Regions from separate parts of the Homo sapiens genome. Here region 2 is linked to region 1. Evidence: fine-mapped expression QTL. Tissue or cell type: whole blood. Region 1 holds a variant in brackets; the other region holds the start of a gene. All regions are shown on one strand. Distances are from middle to middle.

Region 1 (2,645 bases):
GTTCAGGCTGGGCACTAGTGGAAGACGCAAGATGAGCCATCCAGGCCTTCACAGATACTGAGAAAGGCAGCCAGAGAGCCAGGAAACATGCCTTTGAACTAGACCCAGGAAGACAGGTAGAGGCTTGTATAGACCCAATTGAAAAGATACATTCTAGGTTGGGCGCAGTGGCTCACCGCTGTAATCCCAGCACTTTGGGAGGCCGAGGCAGGCGGATCACTTGAGGTCAGGAGTTCGAGACCTGACCTCGCCAACATGGCGAAACCCTGTCTCTACTAAAAATACAAAAATTAGCCAGGCGTGGTGATGTGCACCTGTAATTCCAGCTACTCAGGAGACTGAGGCAGGAGAATCGCTTCAACCTGGGAGGTAGAGGTTGCAGTGAACTGAGATCACACCACTGCACTCTAGCCTGGGTTATAGAGTGAGACTCTGCCTTAAAAACAAAACAAAACAAAACTAAATTCTAACGGGTGCTGAATAAAGAAGCAATGGAGGCCAGGCATGGTGGTTCATGCCTGTAATCCCAACATTTTGGGAGGCTGAGACAGGCGGATCGCTTGAGCCCAGGAGTTCACGACCAGCCTGGGTGACATAGTGAAACCCTATCTCTACAAAAAATACAAACGATTAGCTGGGGGTGGTGGCACACACCTATAGTACCAGCTACTTGACAGGCTGAGGTGGGAGAATCACCTGAGTATGGGAGGTTGAGGCTGCAGTGAGACATGATTGAGCTACTGCAATCCAGCCTGGGTGACAGAGCCAGACCTTGTCTTAAAAAAAAAAAAAAAGAGGCTGTACATGGTGGCTCACGCCTGTAATCCCAGCACTTTGGGAGGACGAGGCGGGTGGATCACCTGAGGTCAGGAGTTCGAGACCAGCCTGTTCAACATGGAGAAACTCCGTGTCTACTAAAAATATAAAATTAGCCGGGTGTGGTGGCTCATGCCTGTAATCCCAGCTACTCACGTGGCTGAGGCAGGG[G/A]AATCGCTTGAACCTGGAGGCGGAGGTTGCAGTGAGCCGAGATTGCACCATTGCACTCCAGCCTGGGCAACAAGAGTGAAACTCCGTCTCAAAAAAAAAAAAAAAAAAATTTGGGAGGCCGAGGCGAGGTCAGGAGATTGAGACCATCCTGGCTAACACAGTGAAACCCTGTCTCTACTAAAAAAATACAAAAAATTAGCCAGGCATGGTGGCGGGCGCCTGTAGTCCCAGCTACTCAGGAGGCTGAGGCAGGAGAATGGCGTGAACCTGGGAGGCGGAGCTTGCAGTGAGCAGAGATGCGGCACTGCACTCCAGCCTGGGTGACAGAGGGAGACTCTGTCTCAAAAAAAAAAAAAAAAAGCAGCAGCAACAGAGCAGTGCTTGCAGTAGGAGTTAGAGGTGGGGCATAGGCACAGAGTTCAGAATGAAATATGCAAATCTGTGGATGTGAGAATAATCTGGGTGATCAAGGAGATCAAAAGAAAATCATGTTGCTTTATAAGATTTATTTGTAAGTGGGGGACTGTCAGAATTGGATTTTTTTTTTTTTTTGAGATGGAGTCTTGCTCTGTTGCCCAGGCTGGAGTGCAGTGGTGTGATCTCAGCTCACTGCAACCTCCGCCTCCCAGGTTCAAGCAATTCTTCTGCTTCAGCCTCCCGAGTAGCTGGGACTACAGGCACACACCACCTCTCCTGGCTAATTTTTTATGTTTTTAGTAGAGAGAGGGTTTCACCATATTGGCCAGGCTGGTCTCGAACTCCTGACCTCGTAGTCCACCCACCTCGGCCTCCCAAAGTGTTGGGATTACAGGCGTGAGCCACCGAGCCCGGCCCAGAATTGGATTTTTTTTTTTTTTTTTTGAGATGGAGTCTCACTCTGTCGCCCAGGCTGGAGTCCAGTGGTGTGATCTCGGTTCACTGCAACCTCCGCCTCCTGGGTTCAAGCAATTTCCTGCCTCAGCCTCTTGAGTAGCTGGGATTACAGGCATGTGCCATGATGCTTGGCTAATTTTGTATTTTTAGTAGAGACAGGGTTTCACCACCATGTTGGTCAGGCTGGTCTCGAACTCCTGACCTCAGGTGATCCACCCACCTTGACCTCCCAAAGTGCTGAGATTACAAGGCATGAGCTACTGCGCCCAGCCAGAATTGGATTTTTAAATGCAGGCGGAGGAATTTAATGTGAAATGCCGCTGATAGAGAGCTGCTAAAGGTCGTTTGGAAAATACCCATCCCATTTGAGTCCCTGCGTATGTGGGTGTGTATGGGTAGGTAGAAGGTGGGAGGGAACAGATAAAGCTTCCCAGCAGCCAAGAAGCATCTCTTCCTCCTTTAATCACCTTAGCCAGTGGAGATCAGTGGGGCCATCGAGGAGGAGTTCACTGTGGCCCGACTCTACATCAGCAAAATCAAATCAGAAGTCAAGTCTGTGGTCAAGCGGTGCCGGCAGCTGGAGAACCTCCAGGTGGAGTGTCACCGCAAGATGGAAGTGACCGGGCGGGAGCTCTCATCCTGCCAGCTCCTCATCTCTCAGGTGAGTGCCTAAGTTTGAGAACCTTCAGATGCCATGGGAGAAAGAAGGCTACTCTGGGGTTATGGCTAAAACTCCTAACACCCACCTTTATGTCAAAGTTCTGGGGTCAAGTGAAATCAAGGAC
Region 2 (2,628 bases), 51 kb before region 1:
AGCTACTCTGGAGGCAGAGGCAGAAGAATCGCTTGAACCCTGGAGGCGGATGTTGCAGTGACCGAGATCGCGCCACTGCACTCCAGCCTGGGTGACAGAGCGAGACTACGTTTCACCAAAAACAAAAAACAAAACAAACAAACAAAAAAACGGGGGTGGTCTCCTGTTCTAGCCCCGTAAATCTCCCAAAAGGGGCCGAGGTACTGGAATCCCTTGGTAGTCATTTTCCGCTTCTCTCAGAACAGCGCCCTTGACTTTTACCTTGTAGTTGGTAAGCCCTCAGCCTGCCAGAAGTCATGTATTTTGCCCAGTGGACCCGATTCTGTTTGGCCACCTATTTTCCCCCACGGTACTCCTATGGCTTTCTCCAAGACCCTCTCTTGCTGTACCAGACAGCAAGTCCTGTGACTCCCTGTGTGAGGAGCGCGGCACAGGCCTGCCTCCTAGGTGTTCGGGTCGAGATTTACAGCGGAGTCTCATCCCGGGACGTGTGAGTGCACTTCAGCGCAGGACTGCCCTGGACTGGGGAGACCGGAGCCGCGATTTTAGACTCAACTCCCCATCACTTGCCAAGGGATCTTACCGTCCTTGTTTGTAAATTAAAGATAAAAGTTGTGAAGGTAAAATGAGAACCATGAACTTGGAGGCAACTTGACCAAAAGTAAAACGCACCACCCAGAATGCAAAGTATTTTTCTTGTGCCTTGAAAACAGAGGCCATGTGGTGGCCTGTTACATATCCTGTCATACCCTCATGGGGGCAGCCAGAGTTTAAGTAGAAACTGTCACAAGGCCGGTTGTGACTGGAGTGGTGTGGCAATGACAGGTCTTTGGTTAGGCTGCTCCGCTGCTCCACACCTCCATTTCCTCTCTGAAAATGGGGGTAGTGTGGAGGGTGGACCAGATGGTCTCCCCTGGCCTAAAGACAGACCAGGTTGTCAGTGACAGGCAGAGGTCATGTGACTTGACAGGCTGAGGTCGTGTTGTGACATGTTGACCTGGGGAGGCGGGTCAAGTCCCAGCACACTACCCGGGAAGCCTTTGGGGCGGGGCAGGGCAAGTCGCGACTTTCATCTTTCGGGGCCTGGCCCCTCCCGGACCTGGCATTCCTGGTTCCCGCAACAGACTGTGGCTTTGGAAGGGGCCCCTCCCTGAGGAGGGCTGGGATTGGCCACCAGTGGCCTGGGAAGAGGCGCAGATCCTTCCGCGGAGGGCGGGGGGGCCGCGTGGGGTGTTTGTTCTCTTGGGGATTAATGGGGGGTTGTGGGGGAGGGGTAGGCGCGCTCCCGCATGCGCACTGCAGCCCCTCCAGTTGGCTCGTCGCTGTCCGCTGGGCGGGGGCCCGGCCCCGCCCCTCTCCCGTCCGGGCAGCGGCGGAGGCGGCGGCTCCTGCGGCGGCGGCTGCGGCAGCGACGGCGGCGGCGGCAGCGGCAGCAGCCTGCGCAGTGCCTTCTGGGAACGGAATCCCCAGGGCTGCCCCTGGCCCCCATGGCGCATGCGCGGGAGGCCGCTCGGTGATCCGCGGCGGCGGCAGCGGCGCTTCCTGCTAGGACCGGCCGGGGCCGTACCGGAGGCTCGGGCTCCACCGACCCTCCTCCCACCCCCTCCCACTCACCCTCTGGGCCGCGACTGCGCAGGGCGGGGCCGGCCGAACCATGGGCCGCGGTGAGTGCGGGGCCCGGCCCCCCCCACCCTGCCCCTCCCCCTCCCGTCCCTACCCTCTGCCCCCTCCGCGTCCTCTCGGCCCCTTTCCCCGGCCCCATCCCCACTCCCCCGCCCTCACCTGCCCCCGCCGCTTCTCCCTCTCACTGCCAGACTTCTGCCTTCCTCACCGCCCTCCCCTCAGTGCTTCGCCCACCCTCCGCCCGCCCTCTCCCCAAGTTCCTTCCTACTTCGTGCGCCTTCCCCTCCTCCTCAAGCTGAGGGAAGCAGTCTGGGTGACAGGGCGCCTTGTTGTGAGAGGGAAAGTTTGGAAGCCGCCAGTGTGGGGTGGGAGCAATGGTGAGGCTGGGGAGGATACCTGCAGGTTGGAGGGGCTTCCCCTTCTATCGGAGGACAGGCTCTCTTGGAGATAATCGGAAGCCAGTGGAATAGGAGGTTCTGAATCCCTTTGCCGTAGGCTTGAGGGAAAATCAGGAGCTTCCCAGGATCCTGGGAGAAGACTGAGCTGTGATCCTCACCTCTTAAGACCCGAATGAACTATATCAGCGATTGTCTGATGGAGCAGGCATGGGGGGAGTTCTGCTGGTACCACCCCAGCGGGCAGTTGGGCAATTGCCTGGTGACCTGTGGGGCAATCTGTACTTTTTATATCATCTTCCTGGGTAGAGAACAACAGGAGCCAGACACTCTGGGAAACTTCCTAGTGGCCTAGCATTATGGGAATGTGCCCATACTCCTGGTTGAAGTCTTCTACTCCGAATGGAGGGAGGCCTTGCCCTTCATATGCCTAAGAATTGGGCTAGACTTTCTTGGTCCCAGGGAGCTGAGGTTCTGACCCTCTGGTCCCTAGGGACTGGGCTTGGAAAGGATGGTTGTAGACTAAGCCAGCAGATCCCCGAGATCTTTATAGGTGCTTGCCTCACATTGTTAAGGATCTTTCTTTTGAGAGGGTGCTGGGCTGTGCTGC

The links. PIP is the estimated chance that this variant, and not a neighbour inherited with it, causes the effect.
Region 2: it holds the start of MBD6, and the variant in region 1 is fine-mapped to the expression of MBD6 in whole blood (TOPMed, PIP above 0.99).

What each region holds. Positions count from the first base shown.
Region 1 is chr12:57,572,752-57,575,396 of GRCh38, forward strand. KIF5A (kinesin family member 5A) reads left to right here. Exons shown (of 29, transcript NM_004984.4): 16 at 2,333-2,521. Among named protein-coding and RNA genes, the nearest start is that of PIP4K2C, 17 kb to the right of the region's middle. The variant G/A (reference allele first, on the strand shown) is at 988.
Region 2 is chr12:57,521,348-57,523,975 of GRCh38, forward strand. MBD6 (methyl-CpG binding domain protein 6) reads left to right here and starts at 1,477. Exons shown (of 13, transcript NM_052897.4): 1 at 1,477-1,664. RefSeq lists enhancers at 1-138, 1-885, 519-628, 719-788, 886-1,845 and 1 more and a silencer at 1,309-1,708.